Linked DNA regions of Homo sapiens. The protein of the gene in region 1 interacts with the protein of each later gene in a pairwise test. Each region holds a gene or a part of one and is shown in the gene's direction. Other genes may lie near its edges. The genes, in order: CLINT1 and BMP2K.

The links.
Region 2: the proteins of CLINT1 (region 1) and BMP2K interact in binary tests that used the Homo sapiens proteins (3 or more experiments, as listed by UniProt).

The regions. Positions count from the first base shown.
Region 1 is NC_000005.10:157,798,568-157,809,750, reverse strand, and holds part of CLINT1 (clathrin interactor 1), read left to right. Parts: coding exon 1-123; intron 124-3,638; coding exon 3,639-3,885; intron 3,886-6,031; coding exon 6,032-6,101; intron 6,102-11,183. UniProt on the Homo sapiens protein: Binds to membranes enriched in phosphatidylinositol 4,5-bisphosphate (PtdIns(4,5)P2). May have a role in transport via clathrin-coated vesicles from the trans-Golgi network to endosomes. Stimulates clathrin assembly.
Region 2 is NC_000004.12:78,777,716-78,788,898, forward strand, and holds part of BMP2K (BMP-2-inducible protein kinase), read left to right. Parts: exon of another isoform or gene 1-4,179; intron 4,180-11,183. UniProt on the Homo sapiens protein: May be involved in osteoblast differentiation.

The DNA.
Region 1 (11,183 bases):
CAAGAGTGCTTTTCCATTCAGTGATAAATTAGGTGAGCTGAGTGATAAAATTGGAAGCACAATTGATGACACCATCAGCAAGTTCCGGAGGAAAGATAGAGAAGACTCTCCAGAAAGATGCAGGTATTTTACCACTTTGTCTCCCGGGTCTCTTAGAAAGAGCCCTAAATTTATGCCACTGGGTTTTTGGTTTTTTGTTGGTTTTGTTTGGGGTATTAACATTATCTGAAATTGGGCCTTTTTTTTTTTTTTTAATAGACTTCATTTGTTTTTAGAGCAATTTAAGCTCACAGAAAAATTGTGCATAAAGTACAGAGTTGTCATATACCCACTTCCCCTTCATAACAGGTTCTGTGAACATCTTGCATTACTATGGTGCATTTGTTAACAATTGAAAAGCCAGTATGGATACACTTATTAACTAAAGTCTGTAGTTTACGTTGGGGTTTCCTATATTGTACACTTCTATGGGTTTCGACAAATGCATAATATTCCTCATTACTGTATTGTATAGAATAGTTTCACTGCCATAAATATGCCCTGTGCAGAAATGTGGAACAAGTCTTAAATGTGCAAGTTATCCTTGCACAGGGGGCATGCTAATCTTCCCTGTATTGTTCTGGTTTTAGTACATATGCTGCTGAAGCAAGCACTGTGCAACTATTTTTAAGATACTAGGTTATACACTACTTGCAATTAGTATTGACATACTTTCCATGTTGCCTCTGTCTACTTATTTTTGAAGTTGATCCTGTGTATTTTTATTCAAGCTAGTAGTCTTTCCTTGGATTTTTTTCCCCAGTAAAAACTTGTATAGATTATTTTGCATTTGGACCTTAGATGATCCAGGGACCTAAGATACTGAGGGATAATGAAGTTTATATATTAAGTTTAATTAAACATAAGTCAAAGGATTTGAAATTTAATGCTTCCTTGACATTTCATTATGATTCTGTGCCAGTGTGTACCAGAAAAACAATCCAAATGGATTTTGAACCAGTTTTTGAGAATAGAGCTGTATTTTTATAAACTACATTTTCTGATGGTATTTAGTTTTACATGGAACAATACTTTGAGCTTTGCAGCAGTCACTTTTGTTCTTACTTACCAATATTATTATAAACCAATTTTTCTGAGAATGTAAAGGGTAATGCATATAGCACTTAATTTACAGAGCAAATTTTACTTTTTAAATTTGACCTTTATCATTTGTGCCTCACAATATCTCTACTAGAGTAGAATAAGAATTTTGTCTTTGTTGTTTATAAGTAAAACCTAAAACCCAGTCACACTGTGTGGACTTGCCTAAATAACACAGTTAGTGATGGAACCAAGCCTTCAAGTGAGTTCTCGTAACTAAATGCCATCTCTTTTTCTTTACCCTGCGCCAAAAATCCTAATAGTTCAGAATTAGGGATCATTAAAAAGAGGTCCAAACAAAAATACAATCTAATTAGTGTATTTTTAGGATGTTTTCATATCTTTTAAATCCCTGGAATGCCTGTTCAGGAAATACCAACAGAATAATGGCCATAATTTCAATAATGTTTTCCAAACCAAGCCAAAACTTACACAGGCCACAAAAACATTAATGAGGGAAACAGCTCTGTATATTTGAAGTGGGCACCATTTCCCTCCCAATGTTTAGTATTTATAATTATCATATGCATCCTTTTTCAGTATAAAAAAGCTAGATATATACTTGTAAAATAGATTTATTCAAAGTGCTAAAAATAAGTTCTAGCTCTTCAAAGATCACATTCCAGTTTTTCAAACAGTCTTGAAAAAGAGACATTTCAGGGCAGGCTCAGTTCCACCACTAACTGTGTTACTTTAGGCAGATCCACACAGTCTGGTTGGGTCTTAGGTTTTACTTATAAACAATAACGCTATGTAGGCTGGTTAGATATCTGTGTGTGTTCTGTATTGTTACTTTCTCTCCTTTGCCCTTCTATCCTTAGTTTTTCTTTTCTTTGTCTCTCTACTCTTCTTTTATTTCTGTTTCTCCCATGATTTTTATTTTTTATGTTGCCTCTAAGACAGGATCTCCTAGAGTTTCTAAATCTTTAAGGAGTATTTAGGTTTAAAAGAGTGAAAATGCAGTGAACATGATTTATCGTGATAATGATAGGGCACACCAGGAACTTTTTATCTTAAAGTATTTGTGAGAGAAGAGTAGATTTTTTGACAGAGTTGCATATGACCTCAATCCTGATGGCATGTTACCTGAATTTCATACTTATTAGTTCACTATTACATTCAGGAATTCTTGAACATTGATCAGATATGGAGCTTCCATTTCATCGTGTGCTAGTCAGATTTATATTTTCAACTTGTGAATAAATTATTTTGCGCTGAAATAAAATTGGACACCAAAAAAGTAAGAAATTTCAGTTTTACTTGTAGGACTAATGGGAATCTTCAGGTCATTTGTTGTTGAGAAGTTAGTAAGGGCTTTTGAATGCGTATCAGAACTTGTAGGTTCCTTAAAATGTTTATATATAAAAATATATTTAACCCCTTTGCTCTGTGTGGGAAGTCATTCTTTTTGATCTTTGATTTATACAAGTTCCAGATTGGTTTATATTTAAGTACAAGTTGCTATAGTTCAGTCTGAGGTAAATTGCATCAGCAGTTTAAAGGAGAATTTTAAACATTATATTCCAGAATATTTATAAATTAAACCACCTACTCTAAAATTAAGTAATACAGGTAATGGAACATGTTTCAAGTAACATTTCTCTCTTTCTCTCTCTTTCGCTCTCTCTCTCTCTCTCTCTCTCTCTCCTACTTACATCAGAAAAAAACCCAATGACTTGTTACTAGAGAACAGACTAGGGCTGATATTTTCATTCCTAGCATATGAAAAACCCAGGCTTTTACTGTTTAGTTTTTAAAATCTTTTTCACTATTAAAGAAAAAGGAAAGAAAAAATTGTTGAATGTGGCTGAAGGAGAATTATCTTTAAAATATTTTAAATACAGTTGTTTTCTAGAAAGCATTTTCTATAGTTATATAAAAGTTTGATCTCCTGATACTATAGTAAAATAGCACAGTTGTAAAGTGCATTCCCTTATATTTTCATGCATTTACAGATGAGTTTAATTATTCGAATTAAGATGTGTGATTTTTTTAGCATCCATTGAACTTTTATTATTTTATTATGTACACACATTAGTCTTTGAGAGTTGATGCAGAATTGTGTTGTAAAAGTGGAACTATAGTAATTTGCACACAGTCCATGTCAAGAAAATAATCATCACATGCAAGTGTTTGAACTCTCAGGGTCTTATCATGGATTCTGATATCAAATCCTATTTTATTTTTAAGTTAAGCTTAAATCTGTAATAAAAACGAGTTATTTTGACATTTTTTATTTATACACATTTATGTAAATACTTTTTTGTAGCAGTATTTTAGACTTATATAGGATATTCTCTGTGTTTCCACTTCCCCTCCCCAGCGCACATATATCATTATTCAGACAGCTTAGATAACATTCTGTTGATCCCTGTCAAGTAGTCAAAGTATGAAATTTTGGAGTTACTGTATTTGAAATTCTTTAGCTCAAATCACTGAGGGACCCATTTTAAAATAATCCCGTCTTATTATTTTGCTTCATTTTTAATATCTTTTAGCGACAGCGATGAGGAAAAGAAAGCGAGAAGAGGCAGATCTCCCAAAGGTGAATTCAAAGATGAAGAGGAGACTGTGACGACAAAGCATATTCATATCACACAGGCCACAGAGACCACCACAACCAGACACAAGCGCACAGCAAATCCTTCCAAAACCATTGATCTTGGAGCAGCAGCACATTACACAGGGGACAAAGCAAGTCCAGATCAGAATGCTTCAACCCACACACCTCAGTCTTCAGTTAAGGTGGGAATGGCAGTAGTTTACACATTATACATGGTTTTATTTTTATAAACCGCTCTTCGAATTCCTGCATTAGTAGGCTTGGGCATTTCTAGGCAATCATATTAATTATGGATCATCTGGCATGTATTACCAAGAGACATTAATAATAAGAAATCTCTTTGAGGGGAGAAACCTGTCCAATTGCTGAATGATTGGGTACTTTCTATGAAAGTAGAAATGACACTTTTGGTTTGTTTGGGGAAGGTTGTGAATCAGAATGTAGTGCCTCTGTCCCCATCTAGACAATACTGGTTACCAACCACAAGTAGATTCACTAAAGAAAACATTGGAAGTATTTGAAAGTTTTAAGAAATGACAAACGAGGGAGTAAGAAGAGATATATAGGGGCAAGTTATCTCATGTAATGTAGAAACGTTGCCTATAAAGGGAGGCGTGTTTGCCTCACAGTCATTACTGATCAGTATCAAAAGAAGCACTGCCTCTTGTACCATCTTCGTTTGTTTTTATTTACCATAGAGATGAAATCCACCTGCTAGGTACCTGGCCAAACCCTAGTCTTTTCAACAGAAATCTGCCAAATAGGGAGATTTGCCTCAAAAGACTAAATTATTGTTTTTGTCACTTTCCCCGACTACTGTTTCCCCAGTTTGTGTCTTTGCAAGAGAAATAGCTAAAAGCTGGGAAAAACAGTTTTCTAATGTATGCAGCAGATTGTAGGTGACTCTGAAAATAAAACCAGGCCTGCTTAGTTGCAATAACAAATACCATGTCAGCTTTTGCCAAATATCTGTATAATTTTTTTAATAATAGAGACTTTTATCACATATCTTAAAGGATTTTAAATAACAGTTTGTAGTATAGCCTGAATATATGACACTCTGCAATAAATATTTTATATTTGTAGTACAAGCTTTTTCTTTTTCTTTTTCTTTTTTTGGAAGACCGAGTTTCGCTCTTGTTGCCCAGGCTAGAGTGCAATGGCGCGATCTTGGCTCACCGCAACCTCTGCTTCCCAGGTTCAAGTGATTCTCCTGCCTCAGCCTCCCGAGTAGCTGAGATTACAGGCATGCACCACCATGCCCGGCTAATTTTTTTGTATTTTTAGTAGAGACGGGCTTTCTCCATGTTGGTCAGGCTAGTCTCGAACTCCCGACCTCAAGTGATCCACCTGCTTCGGCCTCCCAAAGTGTTGGGATTACAGGCTTGAGCCACCGCGCCCGGCAGTACAAGCTTTTTCTTTTTTGTTTTCATTTACCCTCCTCCCCTCAAAAAAAATGTCTAGAAGGTTGAAGTTCTTAGAAAGTTACCCAACTCATTTGGATCTGTTCTTAAAGGTGTTTTGGAATCACAGTATATAGTATTTTAGTTTTCAAAGTTCAAATCAACATGCCTAGGATCTTAGGGTTTCCCCATTGCCTAATAATTGAGTTCTAATTTAGCATGTATATATCTAACATATAGGACATAGGTATTTAGGTATCAGGGTGCTTAGCTTTGTGGAGAAGATAAAAATAGTATTACAGGTATAGGCCTCAGTTTAGTTGGGGAACTAAATATGAAACATATCAATATATCAAATAACATAGAATTATACTAACTTGTGTGATATACAAACAATAAGTTTTGCTAAGGTTCATAGAAATTTAGAGCTGTTTAGGATCTTGACCTCTAATCCAGTGGATCTCAAGCCTTGGAATTATCTAGGGAGCTTTCTTGTAAGACTTTAACAGGCCAAGGTCTTGGCCTTTTTATACCTGGGCAATTATGACTCAGTGTATTGTATGGGACTGGTACATATGCTAGGGTATTTTTTTTTTTTTTTTTTTTTAATGAACTGATACTTAGCATTAAGATTCAAGTGGGATCTGGCAGTTAATATTTTCCAGAGTGAAATGCAGTCAGAAAAGTGAGGTAGGAAAAAAAGTGTCAATGTTAAGAGACTTTTACACTGCTGGGAATGGAGGTACTTAAAAGTGCTTGCTGCCTCTCCATAAGGATTCAAGGTCAGTACTCTTTTTCCAGAAAACCCTACCCTTATTAAGCTAATTACAGGTATTTATGTCTAAATTGAGAATTAGAGATGGATAGAGCTGATTTTTAGAAAAACAAACTTTTCGAAGCTCCTGAGTTATGTGTGTGTTTTCAGACTTCAGTGCCTAGCAGCAAGTCATCTGGTGACCTTGTTGATCTGTTTGATGGCACCAGCCAGTCAACAGGTAAGCTTCTACATTGGCCTTTTCTTTTGGTTTGAGAGTCATTTTTTAAAATGCCAAATAAAAGATAGATTGAAAAATAAGATTACTTATTTGCATTGGGTTCATTTTTTATATGAAATTAGTGAGTCTTGAGCATTATTTGGAATCATTGTGTTATTTTTGCTTATCTTTTTATATGTACACCCATTTCTCTATCCCTATTTTATACCTTTTTCTGACCCACCCTCAGACTAGCAAAACTTTGTTTGTGGTCAGTACTTATTGGTGGTTAATAATAGTATCCTCAAATCATTATCATACTTAGATTTTAATGACTCCTCATACCTGATGTACTGTGTCTTCCCTAATTAATAATAAATAGTATTTCAAGGCATCATGTACTTTCTGAAATTTTTCATCATAGATTTTGGAATCTATAGTTTCCATTTTTAATTTTTAAGATTAACTTGGAGAAACAAAAAATTGCATTTAAACTGTTGCCTTTACTTTCTTTATAAGCAAAAGGTACTGCTCTGCGCATTTTACTGTCTTTCCCTAAATTTTAATTGCAGCTGTCACCTTGGGCATGCCTAGAGATCATTTAACTTTTTATTCTTTTAATTGAACAAATATTTGTTGAACCAGACACTGATCTGGGTGCTTGTAAAAAACAGAGTTGTTGTCCTCATGCGAAGGTCAAGTGGAGAAAATAATCATTAATCAGAGTCACAAATAGTTATCTAGTGATAAACAATGGCAAGTGCTTCAGTCAGAGGAATGACATTCTCTGAAAGTATGTAACTACCAAACATATTTAAAGAGGGCGGCTGGGCGTGGTGGCTGACCCCTGTAATCCCAGCACTTTGGGAGGCCGAGGGAGGTGGATCACCTGAGATCAGGAGTTCGAGACCAGCCTGGCCAACATGGTGATACCCTGTCTCTACTGAAAATACAAAAATTAGCCGGGTATGGTGGCAGGTACCTGTAATCCCAGCTACTCGGGAGGCTGAGGCAGGAGAATCACTTGAACCCGGGAGGCGGAGGTTGCAGTGAACGGAGATTGCGCCATTGCACTCCAGCCTGGGCAACAACAGTGAAAAACTCCATCTCGGAAAAAAAAAAAAAAAAGAGAGGGCTACAGCAAAAGAACTGTTTACCTTGAATTTCTCATAGATGAGATTGATGATTTCTTCAGTTTGATTTCCAGTATGTGCTAGATTTTGAGTAATTTCTGATCAATTGTTTTCAAGAAAATTGATATTTTTAGGGTTGTATTTGATGATTATGGAGTTTTAATAAACTATTGTGTGACGTGTCAAAATAGTTTAACAAATACATCTTCTGTTTAAAGACAGTCTTTCCAAGCCTAAGTTCATTTCACATTAAAATGTAGACAGTAAGATGGGGGTATGACTAATGTGCAAAGTAAATTTATTATTCCCAGTTGTGTGTAATGATTTTTCAAAGCCGAATTGTGGCTGTGCACAGTGGCTCACACCTGTAATCCCAGCACTTTGGGAGGCCGAGGCAGGCGGATCACCTGAGGTCAGGAGTTCAAGACCAGCATGGCCAACATGGTGAAACCCTGTCTCTACTAAAACTACAAAAATTAGTTTGGCGTGGTGATGGGCACCTTTAATCCCCGCTACTCAGGAGACTAAGGCAGGAGAATCGCTTGAACCCAGGAGGTGGAGTTTGCAATGAGCTGAGATCATGCCACTACACTCCAGCTGGAGTGACAGAGCAAGACTCTTGTCTCAAAAAAAAAAAAACTTTAACTTAACCTTTAAGTGTAAGTCTATGCTGGAAATTACTTTTCACTGATAGTTTAGTATAATTAATGTAATATAAAGCCCCCTATTATTTCCTCCTCCTTACCTACTATGTTAAAATTCTTGGATTAGGCATGAACTTTATTCAAGCAATTCTCTTGCCTAAGCTTCTCGAGTAGCTGGGATTACAGTCACCTGCCACCATGCCTGGCTAATTTTTGTATATTTAGTAGAGACGGAGTTTCACTGTGTTGGCCAGGCTGGTCTCGAACTCCTGACCTCAGGTGATCTGCCTGCCTCAGCCTCCCGAAGTGCTGGGATTACAGGTGTGAGCCACTGCACCCAGCCCAGACATCTGGTTTGACCTACTTTCTTTCTCTATTTTTTTTTTTGAGACAGAGTTTCGCCCTTGTTGCCCAGGCTGGAGTGCAGTACACAGTCTTGACTCACTGCAACCTCTGCCTCCCGGGTTCAAGCGATTCTCCTGCCTCAGTCTCCTGAGTAGCTGGAATTTCAGGCATGCGCCACCACGCCCGGCTGATTTTTGTATTTTTAGTAGAGACAGGGTTTCTCCATGTTGGCCAGCTTGGTCTCAAACTCCTGACCTCAGGTGATCCACCTGTTTTGGCCTCCCAAAGTGCTGGGATTACAGGCGTGAGCCACCATGCCTGGCCAGCCTACTTTCTGAAATTCTTCAATTCCCTTTCCCGTTTTTCTGTAACTGCAAACTGTTCCTAAAATTATTCATTAAACTTGATTGGACTGTAATGCCCAAGGTTACGGACAGCTACATTAGTTGTGTAACAATTTATGTGATATATTTTTATATGTTTAAGATTTGAACTGTAGAATTAACTGGTAGTTAGCATGTAGTCATATAATACAGATATAGTGTCACAGAATATCAACTATTTTGGACTTCCTGGCATGAAATATTTAAAGGGCCCCTTTCATGCATCTGTGAAAAGTTTTAATGGAGCAATCAGAGAAGAATTAACTAGGAAGGTCAGATGGGTGGATGTAACTTTTCCTCTGTGACATCAAGATTGCTTTGAACAGAGAGATTTATTAAATACCAACATGCTTCCTTTACTTGGCAAGGAACCTTTGAGTGGTTTGTCTTCTCCAGTGCAAACAGTAGTTTGACTAATTAAATAGAAGTAGCAATTGATATTAATATAGTAACTGAGAAAGTTTGAATGAAATCTAGGAGGTTTCTTGCCTTAAATTTTATTTTATCTTAATAAAAAGCAACTAATAGAGATTGATATTAGAAGAATTTTTTAAAATTAAAGTTATCTCCTATTTGAAACCGTATGTTTAACCAGTTTGTGCAGCTCCCTCTTCAATCAGTACATAAATTTAGTTACTCCCAATCTCTATTTAAATATTTTAATAATATATTTTAAATTGAATTCAGCAGTGAAAGGAAATTGGGCATTAAATCTTTAGCACTTACACGAGAAGGTATAAGAATCTACCATATTAACATTGCTATTTGGTATGTCATTTGGGTGTCATTTACCAGATGTGCCCATATTTATAATAGTACCATCATGCAAGTAATGTGGGCACAAACTGTAAAGCTAAGCAGATATGGCATCTGTACCACTCACCAGCTAAATATATCCTCTGAGAAAATGTTCAGATTTTTGTGTGTGTGTGATTACATGTTCTTAGCATTCTCAAAAGTATATATGGTAAAATCATTGTAGAATATCTTACCAAGTTTAAAAATATATATGTAAAACCTAACTATCAGGATTTACTTGAGACTATCTCATATCTTAATAAAATGTCCCCTTGTGGTGATATTCTTTTAAAACCTGTACTCACATGGTGTTTCAGTTGCTTTTACATAAAGTACATTTCTAAGTAAACATTTTAAGAAATGAAAAATAATTTAAAGTACAGTCATGGACTGCATAGTATGTGACCATGGTCCCATATACAATACTATATTTCTACCGTACCTTTCTTATGTTTAGATATACAAACACTTTCTATTGTGTTACAGTTGCCTACAGTATCCAGTATAGTGACATGATGTACAGATTTGAAGTCAAGGAGTAATAGGCTATACCTTATAGCCTAGGTATGTAGTAGGCTAACTAGGTTTGTGTAAGTACCCTCTATGATGTTTGCACAATGACAAAATTGCCTAATGCCCCAATGCATTCTGTCATTGAGAAATGTGTGACTATATTTAGAAAATAAGCCAATTAGAAATAGAATGCCAAAAACTGTCCCATTTCTTTTTTTAGTTTATCTCACCTCTTTAAAAAGAAGTCCAACTTGTCTCTTTTGTCCCTTTGTAATTAAGAAATTTAGGTCTTGATTAACATACTGTTAAACTAGATATTTCTAGTACAATAAATAAGGTTGAGAAAATTCAGCATAATCAATACAGATAGAACTTAAATGACTTGCAATATATTTTGAATGTTTTTAAGTTAAAAAGAAACATTTAAAAGGATTAAGGTATATCAAATCCGAAATGTGTATTACATTTACATTTGAACCTGCTGCTTTGTACCCAGTAATCGCTAGTTAGTTGAAGACATTTACATGAACATGTAAATACTCACCTTGTTCCATTCTTAGTACACTAACTTATCATTTGGGTAGGGGTTGTCTCCAGTTTTAAACTAAGTTTACTGAAAATAAAATTTTTTCAGTATATTCTCTTTTTCACTGATTATTAAAAGTAATGCACATTCAATTTGGTGGAAAACAAGTGATTTACCATAATTTAGACACATAAAGTATTAATCTGGTGAATATCTTTTTAAAATACATTTTCTACATATTCCATTAATGTAGTTATTTAAGCATTTATTATGTGGCAGATCTTTTTCAGGCTTTTAGATATGACTTTTCATTTGTTTGGGTTTTTCTGGGTTTTAGTCATTTATTTATATATTTTGATAAACTGCTTTTCACCTAAGATCTCATGACCATTTTCTTATGATAGTTGGTATTCTTTTATAGTACTTTTCATTGCTTTATAATCTTACATTGGGTGGCTATATTATAATTTAGCCAGTTAATCCCTTGTTTTCTAGACATTAGTTTTTTTATTTTTCCAAAATTTTGTAGTACAATAGCACCTTTTAAAGCTTTTTCAGTTTGGTAAAGAGAAAATAATATTTCATTTTATTTTGCATTGATGATTGAGTTTGAACACTTCATATTTTTATAGGCCAGTTGTTACTATCTATTCATGTTCTTTATTTATTAGGAGTATTCATCCTTATTGATATTCTAAAACTTGTGTATTATAGATAATAATTCTTTGTCATGTATTTACATTTTTTTTGCACTTTGCCAT
Region 2 (11,183 bases), on another chromosome or scaffold:
TCTCCGAGCGTTAGACGTTGATGTGGTTTGAAAACAGTAGACTGAGATTCCGCTTGTATTTTTTGAAATGCTATACACAACAGTAAATTAGCACAAGGGAAAAAACCTGAAGATTTTTGTATAAAATATTTGAAAGAGAAAGAAATCGTGAATTATTCAAGTGTACATATCATTGTTTCGTGAACCATTGCTCAGAATAATGATCTTAGCCGAAACTTGGAGAGGTGGGAGAAGGAGGATCCTTAGTTTTTCAGAAGAATGAATATGTGGTGAGTGGTCTTTATAAAAGATTTACTATACTATAAAGTTTTCTAGCTCTTTATTACACATGAATTTCAATTATTGGTTTAGATTGTGTTGTAGGTTTTAAAAGCACATGGCTCTTCACTCAAATGCCATATTCTGTCTTTGAATTGTTTTAGTAACTAATTGAAATGTAGCTTGAGTAGTGTTACACTCACTCATTCCACTAAATCCCAGATGGGTCTTTTATTTAATAGAAAAAAAATACTGACATTTCACAAATTAGATTTTGAATTTGTAACTTGTATTACTCACTACCCTAAGCATATCTTATCACTACCCTAAGCAAGCCATTTTCAATAAAAAAATAATTTTGGAAAGTAATAAAGATGAATTTCAAAAGGAGAGTTCGTTCAACCACAACGAAGAATAAAAGTTTATTTCAAGCGCTAATGTCACTGTTAGAGTGTTCCACTGACTTTTGCCATAAATGTATCATTTCTCTTGAAAAGTCAATAATCAAATGCTAGGAGGAAGCAAGGACTGAAGAAATCCTTTTAGAAGATGAAACTTCTCCATCCTACACCCCAGCTTTAATTTCCTAGAAGGGAGGCCAAGGCCTAGGTTTTCTTTCCTTGTGTATTTTTTCTGTCTCCATCACCCACACAACTGGAATTGTCTATGTATAATCAGTTTAATTTTGATCCTGGCCGGTCTTATTTCAGATGCTTAATATCCCCTCTCCCTTCCTAATAAATAGTGCCACAATTTAGACAAGATGTTTAAGCACAAGTCTAGTTCGCATTTAAGCGTGATTAATCAATAATTGATGGGTCTGCCTGATCATAAGATTGGGTCATGTACTTGTGAAAATGCATTCAAGTTTAGAGTACTTGATTTGGGGAGAGGGATACCACTGAGTAGGCAAAGCGGTAGAAGCTAAGATAGACCAAAGCACAGACTTGGTAGATTTTGCATTTTTTGTTTTGGCCCAAAGTTGTTTAAACAGAGCCAGGAAGACTCAGTAGATACTGTGCCCTGAAGTGTTTTTGCCATGCTCCTGCAAACATTGGTAGTTTACTCATAATGACCTCTGCAGTGTCTTTTTAATAAATCCGTCCGTCTCTCTGTTGTTATTTTTATATAATTAGTTATGTTGCAAAAAGTCACCGTGAAAACTGGATTAGCAAACACTGAACCACTGCTCCTACTATGGTGTTAGATTCCTGAAAGCTGCTGTTCACAACATTTTTGTCAACTGATCAAGATACAACCTTGTTTTATGTCTGTTGCAGTTTAAATACACCTTATTTAATATATTTGGTTGATTTATTAACATTGAAATCATGGCCAACAGCTCTGTAAATCATGCCTCAATGAAGATTATCTCACACTTGTATTTTCTCTGTAGTCTTTGCTCCTTGAACACTAGACAGCACTTTAGCACTACGCTTAGGGACTGTTTTCAACAGTGAAATCACCAATAGCAAGCACAAAAATGAGAAAAACATGGCACTAAATAGACCATGAAAAGGACACTTGTTTACACTATGTAAGCTGAAACTAGAATGTGCACGTCAGTAGACTCACATTTTTCACCATTGTGCACATGTCTGCAATGACAGTGGAAGTGCTATGAGTAATGATTTTGGGGATACAAATAAATGTTAGTGAGTAGATGAATTTGTAAATATAGTATCCTCAACTAATGAGGAGCAACCTTTGTTATAGGTAGATATGTATATGCACATATTATGTCTATAATTTGAAAAGCAGATTCTCAGGGGTAGGTTGTATGTTATAACTAAACTGTTAAAGTTTTCTCTCTGAAACATTATATACTTTGTATCATAATGTCTTTGTAGTCAAGCACATAAGTGTTTGAAAATAGAACTTGCACCTTTTTAGTTCCTCCTCAAAGTTTAAAGGACTGATAACATAGTGAGGCAGTTCATGTTTTTTTTCTCAAAAACATGTTTAGGAGTCTGTACTAAGCAGATCCCAGCTTTGGTCTGTAGAAATGAGGGAGAGCGGTATGTTGGTTTTAGCTTCAAACAGTGACAAATTGTCAGGCTCATATAATTAATTCAATGTAACCTTCCAAGTTTTTACTAAAACCTGGGGTTGGCTTGTTGACCACATGCATCACCATAACAAGCCTTTGGTGCTAGTCTGAGGAATTTAATACTGATTGATAATAAGTTGGTTTTTGAGTAGGGGACATTGTTTTCCCTAAATGTCCTTGGTACAAAATGGACCTAAAATGGGGTGTTGAGACTGGGAGAGCAGAGATAACTTGTTGAGATAATGTAATCACGAGGTTATGGGGGCTGGGTAGGAATGATAGTGTGAATATGGTGATGTGGGTAAGATTTACTGAGATGGGTGTTGGGGGTTATTGGATTGTTAGTAATTGGAGGCCAGGAATTTACTACAGGGTTCTTTAAAAATAGCTCAGTATTTCTCTTAGAGTTAAATGCTTAGATAAGCTAAGTATTAGCCAGTTCTCGTTGTTAATTTTTCAGGAAGGTTGTACTATACATCTGATTTTGCACTATAAATTAGTAGGGAAATGATAGATTTAAGCATTATATCTCATTTGCAGAAAGCATCTGTGGCTGCCCAGTAACTTGTAAGTTCACATTCCGAAGAGAAGATAGAGAGGATAGAAAAAAGGGAAGGATCGAATAAAAATATCAACAACTGTTACTACTACACAACTTCATTAAATGCCTTTGGTGTGCTAAGCACTGCTAGGTGCTACTTAACATAGTAGAGGACAATAGTGGAGGTATTCTTCTGGCCTATGAAACTTACAGATTAGTGTGGAAGGTAAAAGCTAAACAAGCCAACAAAAATCACCAAGTTACTATAGTTAAAATTTTTTATATGTGTCGTGAAGACAATGCTCAGGGTTTTATGAGAGAATTCAGTTTAGACTGGGGGGTCAAGGAAGGCCTTTTTGATCTTTTAGCAGAAACCTGAAGGATGAAGAAAGTTAGGTAAAAACAGAGGTGTGAGGTTGGGGTGATTTGAAGTATGTCATGAAGACTGAAGTCTCTGTGTGAGGGAAGGAAGTTTCAGAAACTGAAATATGCTCAGAGCTGTGGACTACAATGAATGAATCACATGTAAGAGAGATCCAAGATGATGTTGGCAAGGTGACCAGGGTCCGGGGCTTAGTATACCATGCTGAGGAGTTTAGGTTTTATCTGAAATGCAACAGGAAGCTATTGAAGGGTTTGAATTGGGGCAGTGACATGCTCTGATTTGTATTTTTACAAGATCATGCTGATTGCTGTATAGAGAGGTATACAAATTATAAGGTTAAAATGATGACAGTGGGGATGAAGATGATAATGCTTAAATGGGAAGACCTTGTGGTGGTCATAGGAAGTGTTAGGAATTACTTGCTTATGTATCTCTCAGGTGAAAGTACCGTTTGGGAACATAAGGAAGGAACAGATTTTTTTTTTTTTTTTTGAGGTGTTTGGAGGACAGCCAGTAGTTCAGACATGTTTAGAGATGTGTTTGGATGAGATATCTGAGAGGAAATATCAAATGGGAAGCTGGGTATGTCGTCTGGAACTCAGCAAAGGTGTTTGGGCTTAGAGATGGTACTTCTGATTGATTAGTGAGCCCTGGCTGTTATTTAAAGCCCTGGGAGAGGATGGATGTAGGGAGAGTGTAGAATGAGAAGGTGCTCATTGAAGGACTCCTATAGTGCATTGGTCTCAGACATTAGTGTTCATTGTAAACATTCAGAGGATTTGGTAAAACAGAAGTGCTGAGCCTGGTCCCCAACTTTTGATTATGTCTGAGTGAGGCCCACTCTTTCAGTGATACAGATGCTGCCGGTTCAGGAACCACGTCTTGAGTACCGAGTACCACTGATTTCGAGCGGGCGAAGAAGACTAAGAAGAAGGTGCTAGAGAGGTATGAGGAATACCAGGACACTCTGATACCTGGAAACTTGAGAGTATTTCAAGAAGGGGAGGGAGTGAGCAGTTGTGTTGCTGCAAAGTCATCTTACTTGATCACATTTTTTCGCCTGGCATTCACAGTTATTCATGCTCACTTCTTATCTTTAAAAGCTTACCTGTAATTATTTGCTAGGTGAATACTCTTTGCGCCTGGTGCAATGTGCTCCACTCCCTGTTGGTCCGTGACTGAATCTTGTACTTGCCTAGCACTCTGCCTTTGTCTCTGTAATCCCTGTTTCCTAAGTACTGGTTATGATCACTTCCTCCTTTCTGTGGACACTTGTAACTATTTGCTTTTTTCCCTCTTGTCACATTTAACCTGTCTTGAGATGGAATTATGTAAGCACCTAGAAACACTAAGGTTGTTAACTACTGTTCCTCTGTCATCTCCACTACCAGATAGTAAAATTCTTAAGGCTAGACAGACTCTGTTTTAATTGATGTTGTATCACACAAGTTGGCCATACCATGAACATTCAGCTACTTCTCAAAGGAAATGGTGCTTGATTTTTTTATTTTTAATCAGATGATGATCTTCAGTAGAATTTAAGGCCTAATTTGCAAATTGAAGAGCACCAATGGAGGGCTCTTTACTGGACCATCAAAGGTTTTGTACTTAGGCCAGAGGACTCTGTGTTTTCTAGTTTGGTGAAGACAAACAACCGTTAAGGCAGTGTCATTTCACTTAACAACTTGAAACAGGAAAGAAAAAAAATAACCCAGATGCCCCCTTGTAGTTATCTTGCTTTATTGACATTGTATTTTTATTTATTCTACAAAGGTGGCTGAGTTTTTAAAAAAGTATGTTACATGCAATTGTGAAATTGTTTTACATTTTGTGGTTAATTTTGACAGCTTTTTTTGGATGCTGAGCTTTTTGGGGGTAGAACCAAGGTCTATTCACCTGTGCATTCAGTTGTCCAGTAGTACTTACTCAGCACCCTTTTTTGTTGTTGTTTAATTAAGCTCTTAGAAAACATTGTTTCCTCTTCTGAAACAAGGAGTTAATATCTATTATGAAGATTAGAGAAGATAATGTGTGACAGTACCTGACAGTGCATTGCCAAATCTCTTCATAACTATGAGTGAACTTTTAAGTTCCGATTTGGTTATACGCTTTCAGTGAAATCTGATTTGGAAATTATAGTGACTTTATTATATATTTGGTATCACATTTATCCTGAATAAGTATCACATTTGTGTTTGAAAAATATCTGAATAGTTTGTTAGATAATTATGTGTCCCTCAGCCATATTGAATTTTCAAGTTTCAATCAGCTATATAAAATTTTGACCTATATAGTAGCATATGATTTCACTATAAAATGGAAATTATTTGCAACAAAGGACACTATATACAATATTAACAAATGGTTCTTTTTTGGGTTGTTTATGTTATTATTGTAGTGATAGCTCCTAGGATGTAATTTTGATTGTCCGTTAATGTATTTCCTCTAGAGGTAGTAGTTTTATTCAAGGACAAGCTACTGACACTAAAACAATTATTCTAAATTTTCAGTATTCCAAAAAAACAGTGGAAATTTATAATGCATTTATCTCCAGTAAAGGTGCTAAATTGTACAGGATGGGCATGGTGGCTCACGCCTGTAATCCCAGCACTTTGGGAGGCTGAGACAGGTAGATCACTTGAGGCCAGGAGTTCGAGACCAGCCTGGCCAACAGGGTGAAACCCCATCTCTACTAAAAACACAAATATTAGCCGGGCATAGTGGCACGTGCCTATAATAACAGCTACTCATGAGGCTGAGGCAGGAGAATCCCTTGAGCCCAGGAGGCAGAGGTTGCAGTAAGGTGAGATAGAGCCATTGCACTCCAGCCTGGGTGACACAGCAAGACGCTGTCTCAAAATAAATAAATAAATAAATAAATAATAAATAAAAATAAAAGTGCTAAATTGTACAAACATGCCAAATATCTTTGCTTTTAGGCTGTAGTCAACTATTGTGGTTAATACTGACATTCTCATGCTGGGCAGATTGAAAAGGCTATGTCTTCGATATTTTAAAAATAATGAAAATGAATTAATATTTGTTAGTATGTTTCATCATGGGGTGCACAGTAGGGAAACTTGGAAAAGGTCCTTGATGTTGTCAATGTTAGAGAATGTACTAGAAAGTGAGACGGATGTCCTTATGTTGATCCTGGGTCTTATATAGTGTTCTTTCTGATCTTGTATATTATCTTGGTTTTCTTTCACCATTTCCCTCCTATTTTTTTGTCAGAACTTGAAGTAGTTTCATATACATCCAATAGAGCTCATTTGGTAGTTATCAAAATGATTAAAGCCTTGACTTGGGATTCCAAAGTTAAGAGTCTTGAACTACCATTTCAAAGCTGCCACACTTTTCTAGTGGTCGGGTATAATATTTCATCTCCAAAAGATTGGGACTGTTTATTCCTTTGTTTTATCTTGCATGCATCTGGTGAACCATTCATCTACCCACAGCCTGCTATTTTTAGGGGACTAAGTTGGGAAGTTGAGTGGTTAATGACTGAGCTGTTTTAAATAGCTGGGCACTTAGTTAATTTGGAGATTCTTTGTCTATGTGTATCAGCTTTACAAATGAGGTCAGTCAGCACATGTCTGCTAACTGTTTCAAAAGTCTCTCTCTGCAGGAAAGTGGTTGTAAGGCCTTTTCTACAGAGAGACTTTGTTTTTGGTTTATCCTAGTCTTGTAGAATTGCAGTAACATTAGAGGCATTTTGCAGTAAGTATTATTTTAAAATATGGAATGATTGTTGTTACTAGTTTGCCCATTTTAACATTTTTAATTATCTTTGAAATAGTGCCTTCTTGGACGCATCTATCGGGGAAAAATACCAGCTGGTAATCCCTGTTCTGCCTCTAACTTGCATTGTGACGTTTTGACTTCAGTTTCCTCAAGAAAAAAATGAAGTGGAAAAAATGAATTTGTAACATCTTTTTCCATTTTAGTATTCTTGGATTCTGTCTATGTAACTGATTTTAACTGCTCTTTTAGATAAATGAGGAGCATGGGACAGGGAGGAATAGCAATGAACAATTTCAGGATTGAGACCATAATGAAAGGATTGTGTTTGATCGTTATACAATTTGAGTTCTTTGACAGACTTCACAATGGAATGGCAATTTATTTTTTAATCCTAAAGTATGAAATTATTTTTATTTTATTTTATTTTATTTTTTCAAGACGGAGTCTTGCTCTGTTGCCCAGGCTGGAGTGCAGTGCTGCAGTTGTGGTTCACTGCAACCTCTGCCTCCTGGGTTCAAGTGATTCTCCTGCCTCAGCCTCCCAAGTAGCTGGGATTACAGGTTCTTGCCACCACACCTGGCTAATTTTTGTATTTTTAGTAGAGACAGGGCTTCACCGTGTTGGCCAGGCTGGTTTCTTAACTTCTGACCTCAGGTGATCTGCCCACCTTGGCTTCCCAAAGTGCTGGGATTACAGTCATGAGCCACTGCGCCCGGCCTAAAATTATTTTTTAATCATTGGAAAAAGGTCTTTTCTAAGAAGTTGCCTTACATGCTAGTCCTTGAGATCCGGGTAGAAGCTCAAATTAAATTGTGTGACATTTCAGAATACTATTTAGTTTCAGTGGGCATGCCACCTTAATTGCTTATTTTACTATCTTGATTGTGTTCTCTAAGAGACTCATGCACAATATATGTATTTTAGAGAGTATTAGTAACAAAACAAAACCTTTTTATTCAAAAAGAATATATGAGGAGGAGGTATGACAGTACTTTCTCTGATGAAGTTTACAGATACAAAGTTTACCCTTGATATGTGTGGGAAATTGGGTACCTTTTGTTTCCAATGCTGTCAGCCCTAATTTGGGTCCTTAATACATCTCGTTTAGAGAATTATATTAGCATTTGGACTGTTCTTTCAGACTCTTTCCTTGCCAAACCAATTCTTGTATTCCTTCCAGTTTATTCTTCCTAAAATGGACTTATGCTCATGTCACTCTCTTACTTGCCTAACCAAGTAAAGTACAAACTCGTTACTCTAGGATTCAGGACCCCCTGACCTGAACCTCCAGTTCAGTATGACCTCCAACCTACCTCTCCAGCCTTAATCTCTTACTCTTACTCCCTACTTATATTACACTGATGTGCTTGGTATTTTCTGCACTTCTCTCAAGCTTTCTGCTATCGTCTGAATGTTTGTGACTCCTCCCGCAATTCATATGTTGAAATCCCAACGCCCAAGGTGATGCTATTTAGTGATGGGGCCCTTGGGAAATGATTGGGTCATGAGAGCCCTCATGAATGGAATTAATGCCCTTATAAAAGAGGCCCCAGAGAGATCCCTCATCCCTTGCACTACATAAGGTTAGAGTGAGAAGATGGCCATCTGTGAGGAAACAAGCCCTCTCCAGGCACTGAATTTCCCAGCACCTTGCTCTTGGACTTCCCAGTCTCCATAACAGTAAGAAATTCTGTTGCTTATAAGCCACCCAATGTGTGTGTGTGTGTGTGTGTGTGTGTGTGTGTGTGTGTGTGTGTGTTTTGAGACACGGTCTCTATTGGCTAGGCTGGAGTGCAGTGGTGTGATCATAGCTCACTGCAGCCTTGAGCTACTGGCCTCAAGCAGTCCCCTTGCCTTAGCCTCCCGACAGTTGGGACAATAGGCATGTGCCACCTTGCCACACTTCTCCATTTCTGTTTTTTAGCTTATGTTGTTATGTTTGCCCAGAATGCAAATACTGGCCTCCACCACTCTGTTAAAAATGGGGTCTTGTAGGATATATTTAAAATAGTTACTTTTTTGTAATCTTTATTTTTTCCTGAAACCCTATCTACAACCAAATAAGTGTAATTATGCCTTCCTTTGCTCTGCGTAGCAACTGTTACTCATATAGCACTTATCTTAAATAGCTTTGTTCTATTCTAATAAAATGCGTAATTTTCTCTACTTTAAAATTTAATTCTTTTAAGGCTTATCTTGTATTCATTCTTTTTTTCCCTCTCATTATTTTTAAAATATTTGGTAGAGATGGGATCTTGTTACGTTATCCAGGCTGGTTTTGAACTCCTGGCCTCAAGTGGTCCTCCTGCTTTGGCCTCCCAAAGTGCTGGGATTACAGGTGTGAGGCACCATGCTTGGCCTTGTATTCGTCTTTTATCTCTTGCAGTGCTGTACTCATGATAGTATTGAGTACCTCTGTAAGAGGTTGAGTTTTGGTATTCAAAAGTGATCAGAGGGCTTGCTACAAATTACTATGAAACAATTGGATAGCAGCCATATTTGACATATCAAGCTGTTCAGTTGATATTTAGGAGAAGGCTGACTCTGTTTTTGAAGTTCTGTCCATTTTAAAATAAGGAGATAGAGATATTTGTTAATAATGTAGTTCTAGCATTAAATAGATGGATGAAAAAATACTACCAGATTTATTTTTGGACTCCTAGCCTGTTTTATTTCTGTTATGGTTATATGTATAGTACATCTTTGTTTTGTGGGTACTGCATTGCTTGTATTTGATGTGACTCTCAAAATGTTCTAGCCTGAATTCCCTTGAGCCACTACCGTTAGACAGAGTGGGAGCTGGGTAGTCTAAAGTATGTGCTTTGGATAACTGATCTTAAGAAAACAGTTTTGGGGGTGGTCAGCTGTGTATGGCTTTATCTTGAGTGGCGGATAGTACCACTCAATGGGATGAATGGTGTCTAAGAGGATGAGGGTATTAGGAAGAAGAAGGGGATCTTATCTCCTTAAGGCTCCTGGGGAGGGAAACAAATGAGCATTAACTTTGGGGATTCCTCTAACTGAACTGTATGATATTGAAGGTACTTATTTTCTAGGTGGAAAGACATTTAGTTTGCTTTTAGATTAGGAAATTTGTAAGCCTGGCCCAAAGGTCAGAGGGTAGCAAACCACCCTTGACTATTCTTTCTTTCAATTTCTGGAAGAGAGGGTTCCAGTACACTATTTCCCCTTGCCTAAATGCTGTATTTACTTATTTTGCTTTATTTTTGCTGGTTGGACCATTGTTAGGGCTGCCTGGAGCTTTATACATAAGTATTCTCTTTTGAATGAGATTGTCAGTGGTTAGTTTAGGTTTTACTATTCTTTCTGAATCATAAAGATACTACTACTAAAGTAATTTTTTTTTTTCCTGAATCTTGTCAGGACTATTTTTCTAGGGAGTGGGATTATGCATCACTGGCAATTACCCATTTTTTCATTCTCTTGCCTGCATCACAGACTCTCTTCCGTTGAATGTTAATGGTCTATTTTTTTATACAGGCACAGAAAAAAAAAGTTGCTACTGACTCATGATCAGTAGGCCATGTATTCTGAAATATTTGTTCAGAGGTTGGGGGTATATGTGCTCAGATGTGCATAGGCTTTTGATGGTGTCTTCTATGATCACTAACAGGAGTATGTAAGATAGTTAACTGTTACGTGCAGTAATGTGGATCTAAGGATTTTTTTTTTTTTTTTTGTCTACCTAATGGGCCTAAATTGAAATTGGAATAGATCCTTAGTTTCATTAGCACAGTATTATGGTTAACTCATCCAGACAGCTCAGTTTAAATCCTAGTGAATAGTTAACTGGATTGCTAAATCTTTGGTAAATTTTCATCTTTTAGCAAAATGTTTATGCAACCCAAAGGAGAAATTCTAAGGATCTCAACCAAAATTGGTACTTGTTTTTATTTTTAAACAAGTGAAGGTAGCTGTTATGGGTTTTATAGTTTTTCACCTTAGTGCAGTGGGAACTTTAGAAATATTGCAAACTCATGAGTTTTTTTTTTTTTAAATATGTGTTTGTGTATGGTATTTTTTGCCTATCCATAGGGATGGTTGGAAGTGCATTTGTAAGGGCTGTATGAATCCATAGTGTTCGAGGTTGGATGTAACTAATGCCCATAAATTTCTAGCTTGAGAAACCCTTATATACAGATTCAAGGTTCAGATTTGTTTTCATCTTAGAATAGTGGCTGTTT